Homo sapiens: one gene and its partners. The protein of the gene in region 4 interacts with the protein of the main gene of each other region in a biochemical or structural test. Each region holds a gene or a part of one and is shown on either strand. Other genes may lie near its edges.

Evidence for each region. Proteins that work in one complex are often made in the same cells at the same time.
Region 1: the proteins of LIG1 (region 4) and L3MBTL3 interact in a test that uses a peptide from one of them, tested with the Homo sapiens proteins (one study listed by BioGRID).
Region 2: the proteins of LIG1 (region 4) and CBX3 interact in a test that uses a peptide from one of them, tested with the Homo sapiens proteins (one study listed by BioGRID).
Region 3: the proteins of LIG1 (region 4) and PHF20 interact in a test that uses a peptide from one of them, tested with the Homo sapiens proteins (one study listed by BioGRID).

The regions. Positions count from the first base shown.
Region 1 is NC_000006.12:130,066,312-130,070,580, reverse strand, and holds part of L3MBTL3 (lethal(3)malignant brain tumor-like protein 3), read right to left. Parts: intron 4,229-4,269; coding exon 4,093-4,228; intron 2,252-4,092; coding exon 2,160-2,251; intron 1-2,159. UniProt on the Homo sapiens protein: Is a negative regulator of Notch target genes expression, required for RBPJ-mediated transcriptional repression. It recruits KDM1A to Notch-responsive elements and promotes KDM1A-mediated H3K4me demethylation.
Region 2 is NC_000007.14:26,203,976-26,208,244, reverse strand, and holds part of CBX3 (chromobox protein homolog 3), read right to left. Parts: intron 1,878-4,269; coding exon 1,735-1,877; intron 1-1,734.
Region 3 is NC_000020.11:35,868,746-35,873,014, reverse strand, and holds part of PHF20 (PHD finger protein 20), read right to left. Parts: intron 3,578-4,269; coding exon 3,464-3,577; intron 2,061-3,463; coding exon 1,881-2,060; intron 1,366-1,880; coding exon 1,186-1,365; intron 1-1,185. UniProt on the Homo sapiens protein: Methyllysine-binding protein, component of the MOF histone acetyltransferase protein complex.
Region 4 is NC_000019.10:48,159,384-48,164,423, reverse strand, and holds part of LIG1 (DNA ligase 1), read left to right. Parts: intron 1-2,072; coding exon 2,073-2,162; intron 2,163-2,916; coding exon 2,917-3,052; intron 3,053-5,040.

The DNA of each region.
Region 1 (4,269 bases), on a different chromosome or scaffold from region 4:
CACAAAATATGCACTTAATCAAGTTAAAAATGTGCATGAGTCAGTACAAATTCACTCCCACTTCCGAAAATATCTCTCAAAAGAGTACTCTCGAAAGTAGGTCATCTTCATATATGAAAGGCTGCAAATTATTACAACTTTTACTCAACACTACAGATATATTTTATTCCTAATAGCAGCAAAAGAATTGGCTGTTGATGTACAAAGCTATTCAAAATAGTTGGTAACTTAAAGAAATCCACAGATAACCAGTCATTCAGAACATGGAACAAAAACAATGAAAGTTCTGTAAGAGTTAGTGCTTAAGGTACAGTAATATATAAAATCTCTTACAATCTTTTGTGAGGAATAATATCTTAATCTATCTATCTCTACATATTATAGACTAGTATATCTAGATACCAATTATGCAAATCACAACACACTACAAGTCATTCCTTCCCTAAAAACAAAACAAAACAAAACAAAAAACAAAAAACAAACAAAAACCTCTGTTAGACTCAATTATACAGATATTATTCTAACTACTTTAGGCAAAATAAATGCTATCTCTCATTTTACTATAATTATACAACTATCATTGCAAAAATGTAGACAGCCGTGTATCTGAAAATGTTAGAATAAGTTGTGTCTGAATGGATAGAACAGGCACTAATGCTATACAGAAATCTTTACTATGCATTTAAGTACTGAAATTTATCCGAGTTCTGATCATAAATGTTTGAGTATTCTGAGGTAATCTAGAAATGGAAAAATTAATTGTCTCTTAGATACGAAATGGAGAGCCCAAGATTAAGTTGTATGCTGGCAATGCATAGAATTTAGGAAGACCGTTCAAGGCAGTTAATCAAATCCCTGACTGAAGTCATCATCAGAGAACCAGACAGGGATTAGGAAACTTGGAGCAGAGACAGCAGGCTGCTAAGTTTTCCACCCAACTGACCTTCCTCCCTGGGATAAGTTTTGACAGAGAATACCAACTGACAATGCACTGTTACACTTTGGCAATTACACTATCCTCTCAATTAAGATGTTTTAAAATAATAAGCTGGCCCATTAACACTATTACTAACCTAAACACACATACGCATGCACACAAACACAATGTGTCAGTTCTGTAATCCAACCTGGTTTGTGTTTGATTAAATCAGAAAACATTTCAGCCATTAGATTGATGCTCTCAAACCAACTGGTTAACACTGTTTCCCAAATGAAGGATTTTTGGAGTGAGGAGGTTTCTCCTGCTCTTGATATTTATTTATTTCCATTTGAAGGGAATGCTGTTAGTGAAACATTACTGCTTCTCCCCACTGTCTCACTCACTGCTACCAGCCTGGTGACTCTGGAAAGGAGGAACTGATCATACTAGAGAGAAAGCTGGGCTGCAGGGTGCACAGTTTCCACTCTGCTCCTCAAGGGTCTAGTGTTCTCCAGGCTTGGGGGATGGGCGTGAAAGGCGAATTAAATCTCTTCCATTCTAGGGCTCAGAATCAAGCTTATTTGTCTGCAGATACAAGCCATGCACGTCCTCCAACTCAGCTCTGACCATCTGTAAAGATGGCATTTTGGTTTTCCACTGGCTTGCCCTTTATTCTTTCCAATTAGATCAGAACTTGGGAAAAGAAAAATGTCATGGATCAAGTCGGCCAATGGAGGAACATGTTATGGAAAGCAGGAATACCGGTCAAGTAGAAAAGACACGCACATCCAGATTTTGTTTTTGTTTACTGTAAACAAAGCTATAAGCTAGAGTGAAGATATGTCACAGTCTCCAGTGACCTCCTACATGTAAACTGAAACAGGGCTACCTTCATCTGGCTATGTGAATCCCATTTGAACAGCACTCCCATATAAGTGATAATAACAATAAAATATCTCAGCCAATTTAATTTTTTATGCATCTTAATTGTAAATCTCACCTGAATCTTGTACTATCTTGTCTTCTACTATGCAATAAAAGAGACAACCATAATATGGCTATAAAACATATTTGTTCATGAAGATTTTAAGCTAATTTTAAACTTTAATTAAGATAAGAGTACTCTATTTACCAAGGCGATAAAATTTATTATAGTTCCTTGTTATCACTTGTAATTGATCCTATGAGACACTCAAAAAACTTCTTCCTTTGAAAGAAAACGTGTTTCGTATGTACTTACTATATTCTGATTTTCAAATAATGACTTAGGAGCAGCTTGAGCTTTACATGTCTTAAGATAGGTCTGCCAATTGAATTCTTCTTCTTTATACCCTAGAGTAAGCACATATGAACAGATTGATTCAAATACCACAATATTTTACACTTAGTTTTCCAGTCCCACTTTTATCTCTAACATGCCAAAATCAATCAAATGACTTTTTAAATAAACAAAATTTAACTCATAATTCATAACTATGCATATTTAGACTATGTTTATTTTCAACAAACTGTATTATTATTTTCCAATTCTGAATGAATGGTAATGGATATAAAGAAAAGGAATAAGGAAACAAATATGTATTATACCCAGGACACTTATTATCAGGGTATTTGTACCAGTATTTAGGTAGAATTCCTCAGCGGTATAGATACTGAACTACAATAGTCAAAATTCTTTATTTTTCTCTCACCTAGTCTATTTTGGGAAGACTAACTTATAGGAACAAGTGGAAAGGTGGAAATAATAGAAATGAAACAGGTAAAATCTTTTTGGCCTATCACTTCAAGAAGGACAATTTAAGGTTTATGAAGTAAGGATGCTGGCAAATTACAATAAGGGAAATGTCCTCCCCTTAATTTTTACAATTTCATTGAAGTTAACATTTCCTTTAAAAAGGAAATTGAGCATCTTATTTTATCTGCGAATATGCTTTATTTTACATTCATTAAAGTCCAGAAAGCAGCATGAAAAAACCAGCTAATAATTTACCATATATAAGAGATCAATTCGTGAAAAGGCTTACAGATTTTCTTTTTCACCCTCACTTTTTCTATGCTATTTTGTTGAATCCTTCAGCTATCTGAAAATACCACTCTGCCATTATTTTTTCACTTAAAACAAAGGGATGGCTAATGCATTAAAGCCCTGAGACAGGCCAAAAATATCAACCCAGTAACCTGAATTTTTGACATAAACAAAAATCAATGTAATGATTGAAATAGAAGGGAATAAGATATTACTAAATATGGCCGGGCACGGTGGCTTACACCTGTAATCCCAGCACTTTGGGAGGCCAAGGTGGGCAGATCACTTGAGGCCAGAAGTTTGAGACCAGCCTGGCCAACATGGTGAAGCTCTGTCTCTAATAAAAACACAAAAATCAGCCAGGCATGGTGGCAGGCACCTGTAATCCCAGCTATTCGGGAGGCTGAGGTAGGAGAATCACTTGAACCTGCTAGGCAGTGGCTGCAGTGAGCCAATATCACACCACTGCACTGCAACCTGGGCGACACAGCAAGACTCCGTCTCAAAAAAAAATTAGGGAATACTTTAGGCAGACAGTGAAAAAGACGATATCTGTTATTCTTGAACTTTGATATAAACATGAAATAGGAAAATCACTGGGGGACTATAATATAAAGTACTCAAATATAAGAAAAGTAATTGCTATGAGTTCAACCCCCCACCTAAGCCAATTTTTAGTGTTACAGTCTTCTTGCCAATCTCCTAAATATTAAGATCTATACGGTCAAGCATAATTTCTCAGGATTTTCTATATAATGAAAAACTGATTTGAAAAATTAGTTTAAACCAGTTAACACTAAACTTAGTTATATAAACTAATTTAAACTAATTTTTCAAATCAGTTTTTTCAAAGATGTATGTATTTAATAATAGAAATTTGCAGGTAAACATTATTTGTAGTCAAAGTTGAGTATCATGCAAATGTTATTTTACATGAAAATAAGCATATGAACATACTTTATTTTCCTAGGCTGGATTCTGCTTTTATTTCTTTAACTTTAATAAACATGGTTTCATCATAAACAATAAGGTTAAATTTGTGCCTATCTGAATTTTCATAAAGTCTGAATTCTTAACAATTCTAATGTAGCATGTAAGAAAATGAGTTTTTACTGAATTTAAAATATCAAACAAAAAGTGACAAAACCTTTTGGAGGATGGAGTTTGTGGCCGGTTTTCTCACACCACCCAACTGGGTGGATATCCAGAGCGTCTGCATTCACCCAGAAGTCATAGCAATCAGAATACCCATCAAAGTGAAGCTTTATCCGGTATCCACAAACCTGAAACAGGTAAAATAGGTTGAATTATTTTTTTTAACTCA
Region 2 (4,269 bases), on a different chromosome or scaffold from region 4:
CACCCCCCAGCCTGCCTCCGCCAGAGACAGGGTCTTGCTTTGTTGCCCAGACGAGAGTGCAGTAGTGGAATCATAGCTCACTGAAGATTCCAACTCCCGACTCAAGCGATCCTCCACCTCAGCCCAAGTAGCTGGGACTACAGGCATGCACCACCATGCCCAGCTAACTTAAAACACACACTTTTTTTTTTTTTTTAATAGAGAAGGGGTCTCATTTTGTTGGCCAGGCTGGTCTTGAATTCCTGGTGTCAAGTGATCCTCCAGCCTTGGACCCCCAAAGTGCTGGAATTACAGGTGTGAGCCACTGCACCCAGGCCCTATATTCTAATTTGCTACCCTGAGACTCCAAATTAGTAAACCCAAATTACTGGGTAGAGGACAATAAAAGTCTCTGCTCTGTAGTATTATTTTCATTAAAGTCTTCTTTGGCCTGGCACGGTGGCTCACACCTGTAATCCCAGCACTTTGGGAGGCCAAGGCAGGTGGATCACTTGAGGTCAGGAGTTTGGGATCAGCCTGACCAACATGGTGAAACCCGGTCTCTGCTAAAATACAAAAATTAGCCGGGCATAGTGGCAGGCGCCTGTAGTCCCAGCTACTCAGGAGGCTGAGGCAGGAAAATCGCCTCAACTCGGAAGGCAGAGGTTGCAGTGAGCTGAGATCACGCCACTGCACTCCAGCCTGGGCAACAGGGTGAGACTCCATCTCAAAACAAAACAAAAAAAAGTCTTTTACATTACCTGTTACACTGCACATGGGAAGTACGCTATAATCATGCTAGTGGCCTTAAGTTTTGGGAGAAGAGGGAGGAGCCCATTCATTTCCTAATGTTTTGATGGGTAAAAATAATTTTTCATGTTTCATGGGCTTAATAAAGAAGGGACTTACGACACATACTTAATTTAAACTAAGAATACTGAAGGATAAAACAGGCAAACGTAAATCTCCCATTCAATTCATAATTCCCAAACTGCTATGAATTAAATGTGAAGAGCAGGGGAAGTAGGAGATAACAGATAGGTGAAGCCCAATCATTCGACTATCATATGCTCCATCTCCAGCGTGCTCAGGAAATTGATCTCCACCTATCCATTTTTAATTGTCACTGCCTATGGAGCTTTGTGGTGTAAGGGGGAAGAATCAAAGCAGATAAGCACAACAAACCCCAAGCGTTAAAGTATGTAATTGTTGCATGTTCAAGTTATTCACATTTTGTGAATAACATTATCAAGAATAATGAGAGCAATCCATATCAAAGAACACAAGGAACCAGAGAGCTTAAAACATGCCCAGGTTCTACTTCTTAGGTATAAGGATATAATAAACCTAGTATAAAGCCTAGATTATATGTAATCCTGTATGAGACCCACTAGTCTATATTGTAAAGCTTCAATGTTTTTAGCACCCTCTGTGTGGAGGAAAATAATGCAGATTATTCTAATTAGTGTAATATCTAACCACATTAAAATATATTACATAGTAAACTACACTCCATAATTTTATAAATTTGACTCCCCAGGGTAATAAACTAGTCTCTAGTCTGCTCACCTTCAACTGTACAATAAAGTCTTGGTTCTTTTGAAATAGACCTCAAATGAGACACCTAAAATTCAAAGTGTCTTTACATTTAAAGACACCTACAGGAAAGCAGGTAAAAGAGCCAGGTTAAAAACAAATTCTAAAACCACTTAGCTGCAGTTAAACATATAGTAAAGATGCACTAAAGTTTCTTACTCTGTAAATCCCTTCCACTTCAGGAAATATTCCACTTTCCCATTCACTACACGTCGATCTAGTACTTTTTCCACGACAAATTCTTCAGGCTCTGCCTCTTCAACTTTTTTACTCTTTCCATTCTGTTTTTTTCCCATTTTTTGCTAAAATAAAACAAAAGAGAAATTAAGAAATATTCCTCTTGAATTTTGAGCACATTTTCAAGGCTCAATTGCTTATATTATTATCACATTCGACATAAATTTTTACTTCTATATCCCAGGGCAGACACCTTCTGGAAAGATTAAAAGTCAACAGACAATAAAATAAAAGAATGCTTTATCTTGTTCATTTAGTTCAAACTTACAACCCACCACCAAAATAATACAATAAAAAAACACTATCTGGAAACAGTTATTTTTTTCCAGTCTTTTTTTTTGAGACAGGGTCTCACACTCTTGTCGCCCAGGCTGGAGTGCAGTGGCGTGATCTCAGCTCACTGCAACCTCCGCCTCCCCAGGTTCAAGCAGTTCTCATGCCTCAGCCTCCAGAGTAGCTGGGATTATAGGCGGATGCCACCATGCCGGGCTAATTTTTTTTGTGTTTTTATTAGAAACAGGGTTTCACCATGTTGACCAGGCTGGTCTCAAACTCCTGACCTGAAGTGATTCACCAGCCTGGGCCTCCCAAAGTGCTGGCATTACAGGCGTGAGCCACTGCGCCCGGCCCTGTAGTCTTAAAAGACCAAGTTTACTAATTTTCACTCATTTTAACAACACTGCAACAAACAACTATGCAGGAAGTACCTAAAGGGTGATACAGAGAAGCAAGTAGTAGTGACAGGTCTTAGGTGAACCTATGACAGACCTTGTATCCACCCCCAGATGGTAAAAGCCCCAGCCCCCTTCTCAATTCAAATATTAATGTCAAAAGCATCAATGATACAGAGAAAAGATAAATGCAGAATGAAAACATGGTTCAAAATCCTGATACCAACTGCAGGGTCAACTATAGAGACCACTAGGAGGTTCAATTAAAGGACAAGATTATTTTTCCATAATCTCTGTAGATAATATTTCCTACCACTTAGAACAAAACTATAAAGCTATCACTTCAAGAGACCAACATTACAAATTTATTTTAATTCCCTAAGGTGAAAAAAATCCTTCCTTCCTGGTTTCTCAAGAGAAAGTCTATACTGGTAACCAAATTCACTTTAAACAGGCATTTTCTTTGGTATGACACTATTTAAGAGAAGCAGGAAACCAACGTGAACCAGCTCTTTCCAATGGCTCAAGATTTCCTATGAGAGGACTAAAAATGGGGAAAATTTTTATGAGAGGATTAAAAATGGGGGAAAAAAAACCCTGAAATGGTTAATCAGAAGATCCTATGGGCTGAGAAGGAATCCATCTTAACATTTCATCTTAAAGCAAATGCTATTGCCGGGGGCAGTGGCTCATGCCTGTAATCCCAGCACTTTGGGAGGCCGAGGTGGGCAGATCATCTGAGGTCAGGAGTTTGAGACCAGCCTGACCAACATGGAGAAACCCCGTTTCTACTAAAAATACAAAATTAGCCAGGCATAGTGGTGCATGCCTGTAATCCCAGCTACTTGGGAGGCTGAGGCAGGAGAACTGCTTGAACCCAGGAGGCTTAAGTTGCGGTGAGCCAAGATCACGCCATTGCACTCTAGCCTGGACAACAAGAGAAAAACTCTGTCTCAAAAAAACACAAAAACAAAAAACCCAAATACTATTTAAAAAAGATAAACCTTAATTGCTCAATCATTAAAGCCATCCCACAAGTAAAGCAGCAAGCAGAAAAAAGTTAAGAACACCTCAAGGCTACAGAAGGACATTTCAAGCTATGCAGGCATATGAAGTGTGCAGACAGATATGTAAGAAAGGCCTCAAGACTGCAAAAGGGCATTTCAAGCTATGCAAGCATATAGGTAACACATACACACACACAAAATAAAAATCCCCTGAAATACAAAAACATGCAGCAAACACCTGACGTTTTTGGATACCATTTCTAAGTCAGGTGTTATGATTCTCATTAGTCAAGATACTTGAGTACTGGGCCCAAACAGCTTTCTGCCACTGTACAGTACAAGAAGGTAGGAATAATGGTGGGAGGAGCAAAGACAAACTGTAATAGACAGAAGTGTATCAGATACCTATACTACATGAAAAACAAAACAGCTACTGCCACAAAGGGAGAAGGCTAACAAAATAAAGTCAACAATAAATACAGAAAATGAAAAGGATACACACTAAGGTTTACAAAAAAAAAAAGGCAGACAAAATGCCATACAGTATTCATTCACTACTATGGCATTCATAAGCTAGTTTCAAATGCTCACTATTTTCTTTTATAGTATATATTTGCCTTAACCCAGCACTTTTTTCCAAAAGTGGATGAGTCAAAATAAATTTCCCATTATTTAAGTGAAATTAACAGCACACATATCTCACAACACTAATGAATTTTTAAAATGGAAAGTTAAGAACTTTTAAAGTGGCCAACCTGTGATCCTTCACAAAATAAACT
Region 3 (4,269 bases), on a different chromosome or scaffold from region 4:
GAGATTTTAACAACCTAACAACCTTCTCTTAGAAATTGACAGAACTAGACCAAAAGGAAAAAAACCCCACAAAAATCAATTTATCAGAGAAACACCATCAACTACCTTGATCTAACTGACAGATACAGAACAAACACATGACAACGGTAAAATACACATTCTTTTCAAGTGCATATGAAACATTCACCAGGACAGATCATATGCTGGACCATAAATTAAATCGCAACAAATATAAAAAGATTGAAATCCTACAGAGTATGTTCTCTGACCACAGTAAAACTATATTAGAAATCAATAGCAATAAGGTATCTACAAAAACATAAAATACTTCAAACTGAAACAACATACTTCTAAGTAACCCATGGTCAACAAATAAATCACAAGATATATTAAATTGAACAAAAATAAAAACACAACGTATCAAAATGTGTAGGATGCTGCTAAAGCAGTTCTCAGTGGGAAATGTATAATTTCATTATTTATTTATTTATTTAGACTGAGTCTCGCTCTGCTGCCCAGGCTGGAGTGCAATGGCATGATCTTGGCTCACCGCAACCTCCGCCTCCTGGGTTCAAGCAATTCTCCTGCCTCAGCTTCCCGAGTAGCTGGGACTACAGGTGCCTGCCACCATGCCCAGCTAATTTTTGTATTTTTAGTAGAGTCGGGGTTTCACCATGCTGGCCAGGCTGGTCTCGAACTCTCCACCTCAGGCAATCCACCCACCTCGGCCTCCCAAAGTGCTGGGATTACAGGCATGAGCCATCGCGCCCAGCCAGAAATTTATAACTTTAAATACTCATATTAGGAAGAAAGATCTTTTCACCAGGTAATGAAAAAAAAAAGGAAGAAAGATCTAAAATCAATTAGGTAAAGTTCTAGAAAAAATTGAAGGAAGAAAGCAAGATCAAAACAGAAATCAATTATATTTTTAAAAATAAACAATAGAGAAAATTGAAGTAAAAAGTTAGTTCTTTGAAAACAAAATAGATAAAGCCCTAGTCATACTAAGAGAGGGAACACAAATTATCAAAATCAGAAATGAAAGGAGCATAACATTAAAATGATAAGGGAATATTAATAAAAGGTGAAAAACAACAACAGAAAAGTCATTTTTTTTTTTTTAGTTCACAAAGCATAAGCAAAAGTGTATATAAAAAGAGGATTAATTTAACTCTAAATATGAACCTTCCACAGTCGAAATCTCTTGTAATTCCACAAGGGGAGAAGTCGGTTCTGTTTTCATCGTGTTTTCTCCCATTGATGGGCAGTTCAACTCCAAGCCTGCAGCCCCGGATCCATCCCCAAAGGAGTGGCAAGTCAGTGCAGATGAGACCTGGCCAGCTTCCAAAGCAGACTTCAACTGACCTAGAAGAAAAAAAGAAAGTTTGGGGGAAATATACATGTATGTAATTCTGAAATCAAAAGTCCTACAACAGTCTAAGAAAGCCAGGGACTTTTTAGAGGAAGGAATTAATCTAAAACATAAAAGCATACATTCACAGGTTCCCATACATACAGGCTGGCTTGTGAGCTTCTCAAAGAAAGAGGTTAAAGTGAAAGGAAAAATAGCTGGAAGTATAAACACAAAGGCACGAATGAGATGGCAGCAGAGAGAGAGAAGCAGGGCTCTTCGAACAGTGTACCTCCAGGCCAACACTGAACGGTAGATAAGCAAAACCAACCACAAATGCATCCAGAAAGTATGTCTATTGAATAAATCATCAGTGAAGAGCAATACATTATAAAAACACTGCAGCACATTCAATAGTTTGATTTCAAGACAATTTAATACTTGTGGAAGGCAGAACATAATGATTTACATTGATTCTCACTAAATAGGAACCAGGTTGGCAAGACAATTCCTGAACAGACTGACTCACCTTCTTCAGATTCCTTGGTACTAGACAACGTGTCTTGCAAAGGATCCGTATCAACCAAATCTGATACAACCAAGTCAGGATCTAGGATCTCATGGGTCCCATTAGTGGACAGCCTGGAGGAACGTCTCCTCGATAAGTCTTTGTCAGTGTTTTCCGAGTAGTTTTTTGACTTTTCCTGGGCTATTAAACCATTAAGAGAGTTGTAGTCAAGAGACCAACAAGAAGAAATAACTGTGCTACTACAGATTTCAGGGCTGGATGTCTCTAAAAGGACTTTACAGAGAGACTACTGGAATGTTAGAGTAGTGATAAAAGGAAATACCCTTTACTAGTTTACAGTTTTAAGTAAGGGAAAAGTGTCCCTGCCAGGATAGAATTTCACTTCTTTAAGGATTCATGGTCTGAAAACATGTGCTAGGTCATGTCCGAATCTTGACAACTATGTTCTATTTTGGGGCTTCCCAAATGTACTAACTTGCAAAGTCGACTTAAAAAGGTTTATAAGAGCCTTACTTAGAGCTATCACAAATCCTTTTTGGAGCCAACAGGATACTATTTTATTTTAAATTTATTTAAACATTTGAGCCAACTCACTCCAGAGGGTATTTTTTTAAATCAATAAATAGTATTTTATTTTGTATTTTTATTTTTTATAGGACAGAGTCTCACTCTATCACCCAGGCTGGAGGGCAGTGGCACAGTCTTGGCTCACTGCAACCTCTGCCTCCCAAGTTCAAACAATTCTCCTGCCTCAGCCTCCCAAGTAGCTGGGATTACAGGCACCCGCCACCACACCCGGCTAATTTTTTTTTTTTTTTTTTTTTTTTTTTTGAGACGGAGTCTCGCTCTCTCGCCCAGGCTGGAGTGCAGTGGCGCGATCTCGGCTCACTGCTAGCTCCGCCTCCCGGGTTCATGCCATTCTTCTGCCTCAGCCTCCTGAATAGCTGGGACTACAGGTGCCTGCCACAACACCCGGCTAATTTTTTATATTTTTAGTAGAGATGGGGTTTCACCATGTTAGCCAAGATGGTCTCAATCTCCCGTCCTCATGATCTGCCCACCTCAGCCTCCCAAAGTGCTGGGATTACAGGCGTGAGCTACCGCGCCTGGCCACACCCGGCTAATTTTTATATTTTTAGTAAAGATAGGGTTTCACCATGTTGGCCAGGCTGTTCTCAAACTCCTGACCTCAGATGATCCACCCACCTCAGCCTCCCAAACTGCTGGGATTACAGGCATGAGCCACTGCGCCAGGCCAATAAGTAGTATTTTTAAAGTTTCACTCTGCATATGAAACCCATCCCTTCCTAAGCCATTAAATTTCCAGTGGCATCCAAATCAAATGTGATTTATGGATATGGAGATGATACCACAGAACCCAACATTAGTACAGTTTGTGCTTTGGGATTTATTTTTCTTCTAGCAAAAACTCCTTCTGATCCAACTGCATCCAACTCACATTACCTCATGTGACCAGAGACAAACATTAGAGCCTATAGGGAATGGGGGACAGGATGAATATAGAGGAAGTTGACCCAAACAACGTCAAATTCTAGCCACACATAAACAAACTGTAGACTCACATGAATTTTTGTCAAGCCGAGGACGTTTTAATGGGACTTCACATCCTTTTGATATTTTCCTTCTTCTCAGTTCCAATGTTATTGGTTGCAAAGTTTGAGAGTTTGAATCCACAGCTACCATGTTTATAAAACCACACAAAAAAAGATACATAATTTCTTAGTGTCTGTCATTTTTATATATAAATAAAACATATATACATATATATATGCAGAAATCACTGCATTATAAATGGGCCATCAAAAGGGCATTCTTACTTAAGATAAAAGAAAAAAAGTAAAATGAGTGAGAAATTACTTCCTTACAGGAGATGGTGATACCTTGCCAATTGACCTCCTGAATCTTTTCTATGATCCAGCTCCAGTTTTCAACCTCTACTTGCTACATTAATTATCTTAGCACTGGGCCTAGTTTTGAGGGTACAAGAAAAATGTCCAAGAGAATTTGTGGATTTTTTTTTTTTGAGATGGAGTCTCGCTCTGTCACCCAAGCTGGAGTGCAGTGCCGCGATCTCTGCTCACTGCAACCTCCGCCTCCCAGGTGCAAACGATTCTCCTGCCTCAGCCTCCGGAGTAGGTGGGATTACAGGCACCCGACACCACACCCGGCTAATTTTTGTAATTTTAGTAGAGTCACGGTTTCCCCATGTTGGTCAGGCTGGTCTCAAATTCCTGACCTCAAGTGATCCAGCTGCCTCGTCCTCCCAAAGTTCTGGGATTACAAGCATGAGCCATGAGACCCAGCCGAGAATTTGTATTTTCTTAAACAAAATCCTAAAAAAATTCTTGGGAGACTATGCTAGTTAACA
Region 4 (5,040 bases):
CAAGAGGAAAACGGAGGGGCTGTTACCAGGAGGAAAAAATGGATGGTAGAGAGACCCAGACAAGGGCATCCATCCCAGAAACCTGGGCGGTAGTGGCTTACACAAATGCTGGGTTCCGTTTTTCTCCCGTGATGAGGAATCTGGGGATTGTCTCTCCAGGGCTGATGGTGCCTTCGATTGCTTTCTGTCCACTGGCTTTTGCATGATTTTTCCTTTTCTTTTTGAAGATTAAATAAACCTCTTATTCTGGAATAATTTTAGAGGTACAGGAAAGTTGCAAAGACAGTACAGAGAGGTCCTGTATACCCTTGGCCAGTTTCCATTGTCAATATCATACATTACTATGATCCGTTTCTCACCACTGAGATACTAATGTCAGTACATTACTCTTAACTGAACTCCATACTTTATTATTCAGATTTCACCAGATTTTTTTTTTAATGTTCACGCCTTCCAACATTTTTTTTTTTTTTTTTTTTGAGACAGAGTCTTGCTCTGTCGCCCAGGCTGGAGTGCAGTGGCGCGATCTTGGCTCACTGTAAGCTCTGCCTCCCAGGTTCAGGCCATTCCCCTGCCTCAGCCTCCTGAGTAGCTGGGACTACAGGCGCCTGCCACCACACCCAGCTAATTTTTTTTGTATTTTTAGTAGAAGCAGGGTTTCACCGTGTTAGCCAGGATGGTCTTGATCTCCTGACCTCGTGATCCGCCCACCTCGGCCTCCCAAAGTGTTGGGATTACAGGTGTGAGCCACCATGCCAGGCCCCAACATTTTATATTTAGTTGTTTGCTTAATATTTCTGCCCTTCACCAGAGTGTTAGCTTCTTGAAGGCAGGAACTTCGTGTGTCTGGGTCACTGCCAAACCCCTCAGGCCCAGAACAGGCCCTGGCACATAATAAGTGCTTAGGTAGGCCGGGCGCAGTGGCTCACACCTGTAATCCCAGCACTTTGGGAGGCAGGAGGATCACCTGAGATCAGGAGTTCGAGACCAGCCTGACCAACATGGTGAAACCCCTTCTCTACTAAATGAAAAAAATTAGCCGGGCGTGGTGGCGGCCACCTGTAATCTCAGCTACTCAGGAGGCTGAGGCAGGAGAAACACTTGAAACTGGGAGGCCGAGGTTGCAGTGAGCCGAGATTGCACCATTGCACTCCACCCTTGGGCAACAAGAGTGAAAACTCCATCTCAAAAAAAAAAATTTTTTTAGGCTGGGCGCGGGGGCACATGCCTGTAATCCCAACACTTTGGGAGGCCAGGGTGGGTGGATCACCTAAGGTCAGGAGTTTGAGACTGGCCTGGCCAACATGGAGAAAACCCGTGTCTACCAAAAATACAAAAAAAATTAGCTGGGCGTTGTGGTGGGCACCTGTAATCCCAGCTACTCGGGAGGCTGAGGCAGGAGAATCGCTTGAACCTGGGAGGCAGAAGTTGCAGTGAGCCGAGATCACACCATTGCACTCTAGCCTGGGCAACAGAGCGAGAGTCTGTCTAAAAAAAAAAGATTTAAAAAGTGCATAGTTAATATTTGTTGAATAAAACTTGGGATGTATCATATCTTGCAGGTGCGTTAGGGCAGAAAAATTAGTGTTGCCTCCTTTGTCTGAGTCTGAGTTTCCTTATCAGTTAAGTTAAAGGGCTTATTTGAAATTCTCTGTTATGTGCTGAGATGGAAATGGTGTTAGAAGTTATAGGATGCGGCCGGGCGCGGTGGCTTATGCCTGTAATCCCAGCACATTGGGAGGCCAAGCAGATCACAAGGTCAGGAGATCGAGACCATCCTGGCTAACACGGTGATACCCCATCTCTACTAAAAATACAAAAAATTAGCTGGGCATGGTGGCGGGTGCCTGTAGTTCCAGCTACTTGGGAGGCTGAGGCAGGAGAATGGCATGCACCCAGGAGGCGGAGCTTGCAGTGAGCTGAGATTGCGCCATTGCACTCCAGCCTGGGCTACAGAGCGAGACTCTGTCTCAAAAAAAAAAAAAAAAAAGGAAGTTATAGGATACAGCATAGATAGGCAGGGTATTGGTGCTGTTATTCTCCTTTTTTTACCCCCTTTTATGCTCCTCTAGGTCATTTTTCCACCCCAAGAAAGAGGGTAAAGCAAAGAAGCCTGAGAAGGAGGCATCCAATAGCAGCAGAGAGACGGAGCCCCCTCCAAAGTATGTCACAGGGCTGGGATATGGTGAATTTTTTCCTTTAGCAGTCAGGATTGTCTTGGTTGCAAGTGTTCAAACCTAATGCAAAATGTCTTGGGGCCCAAAAAACTTTTTCAGCCAGGTGGCCAGAAGTCCAAGAGCAAGAGCAGCTGCAGGCACAGCTGGATCCAGGGCCTCGGAGTTGTCTGTACGTCTCTGTTTCTGCAGGTCTTGGCCTCGTTCTAGAACCAGACATTCTCCATAATGCAGAGAAGCTGGCCGCTGGCCACTGGCCACGTCTTGATGCTGTCTCATCTAAGTAGAAGACAACAGTACTCTTTTTTTTTTGAAATGGAGTCTCACTCTCACCCAGGCTGGAGTGCAATGGTGTGATCTCGGCCCACTGCACTCCAGCCTGGGCGACAGAGCAAGATTCCATCTCAAAAAAAAAAAAAAAAAGGCATCCCAATAGATGCTGGAGACCAATGGCAACCTTAGGCAGGGACTCCATTTGCTCCTCAGCATCACCCATCACAGGGCAGGCACTCTGGAGACTTCCAGAGATGTGTGATGGGTGGGTGAGTGGATGAGTGGGCGGGTGGATTAATGCACTGATGGATGAAATGATGAGATTTGCTGAGGAGACAACCAGAAAATGTTCATTGGATGCTTGAAAGGAAGGGAAGGAAACAGCAAAGAAACCAAAGTGTTTGCGGGCAGTGCCCCCACTCTGCCTGCTGTAGTCGCCCCTTTACACCCCCATTTCCCCACCTTCCAGGGCGGCACTGAAGGAGTGGAATGGAGTGGTGTCCGAGAGTGACTCTCCGGTGAAGAGGCCAGGGAGGAAGGCGGCCCGGGTCCTGGGCAGCGAAGGGGAAGAGGAGGATGAAGCCCTTAGCCCTGCTAAAGGCCAGGTAGGTCCCCATCACCCTGCCCATTTTTACCAGAAGAAACTAATTCCCATTAACCTTTGGAACAGAGTGCAGCAGCTGTTCAGGAGAATTCTGGAGAAATTGCCCGGGAGAGGTAGATGTGTTTCCTGGTTGTGTCGGGGGCAGACACAACCTGGTCCTAATTGCCCCTGCCCTAGGACCTCGGGTGGGCTCCTTCACCACGTTAGGTCTTGGATGCCTCAACTGTAACATGCAGCTCCTGGTAACACCTTCCTCATAGGGTGACTGGGAAGATGAAATGAGTCGATTTACATACAGATCTGAGAATAATGCCTGATGGTAAAACAAGGGCTCAAGGCCCAGCACAATGGCTTACGTCTGTAATCCCAGCACGTTGGGAGGCCAACGTGGGAGGATCACTTGAGGCCAGGAGTTCGAGACCAGGCTGGGCAACATAGCGAGACCCCATCTCTACAAAAAAATGTTTTAAAAATTAGCCAGGTGTGGTGGTGCATGCCTGTGGTGCTATCTCCTTGAGAGGCTGAGGCAGGAGGATCGCTTGAGCCCGGGTGTTCAAGGCTGCAGTGAACTGTGATTGTACCACTGTACTCCAGCCGGGGTGACAGAGCAAGACCTTGCTTCAAAAAAAAAAAAGCAAAAAAATAAGGGTTCAAAAGTATATCTAGCCTCTCCTGTGGTCAGAGGGCTTTTTAACTTCTCCAAATACATTGGACCACTCTCTTCCCCTGTTTAAGTCATTTAATGCTTGTTCATTGCTTTGTGGATGATGTCCAAAGCGTGGTGCTGCTTATTCTGTCAGTGGTGAGGTCAGGTCCTGTGACTCCCTGCCCAAACCCCCTGGTATTACCACCACAGGCCAAAGCCAGGCCTTGTGGAAACCTCCCAGGCCCCTCCTGCTGCTCCTCTCTTCCCCCGCCCATCACATCTGCAGCCGCATCCACAGCTCCTCCTCAGCTCGCTCCATCCTGGCTTCCCACACCCACCAGGTGCACTTCCACCTCTGGGCCACTACCTTCTTTCCCAGCCTAAAACTCTCTTTCCCAGATACACGCCTGGCTCAGTCCCCTGCTTTCTTCCATGCTTTGCTCAGATATCACTTCCTCAGCGAAACTTTCCTCACCACCTATGTTAGCTTCCCATTTGCTGCCATAACAATTGACCACAAACGCAGTGGCTTAAAACAGTGTCAGTTTATTGTCTTACAGTTTGGGAGTCGTGAGTCTCAAATGGGTTGCACTGGGCTAAACTCAAGGTGTCAGCAGGTCTGCGTTCATTTCTGGGGGCTCTGGGGGAGAATCCAGGAATTGCCTTTTCCAGCTGCTAGAGATCCCCTTTTCTCCGTTTTCAAAGCAAGTGGCTGGGTGTGGTGGCTCACGCCTGTAATCCCAGCACTTTGGGAGGCCGAGGCAGGCAGATCACAAGGTCCGGAGATTGAGACCATCCTGGCTAACATGGTGAAACCATGTCTCTATCAAAAATACAAAAAATTAGCTGGGCGTGGTGGCGGGCGCCTGTAGTCCCAGCTACTCGGGAGGATGAGGCAGGAGAATGGCGTGAACCCGGGAGGCGGAGCTTGCAGTGAGCCAAGATCGTGCCACTGCACTCCAGCCTGGGTGACAGAGCAAGACTCTGTCTCAAAAAATAAATAAATAAATAAATAAATAAGCAAGTGGCATTGCCTCCTTCTGTGCCTTTCTTCTGTGGCCACATCTCACCCTGACTTTCCTCTCCTGCCACCCTCTTCCACTTTGAAGGCCCCTGTGACTATATCAGGCCCACCTGGATAGTCCAGGGTAATCCCACTATCGGAAGGTCAGCTGATTAGCAACCTCAATTACCCTTTGCCATGTAACCTAACATATTCCCAGGTTCCAGGTATTAGAATAGAGATCTCTTTTGGAGCTTAGACTTTACCCTGAGGCTTCTGGGGAGCTAGGAAGAGTTTTGGGCAGAAGAGAGGCAGAGATCATTTAGTCCTGGGCAGTGTT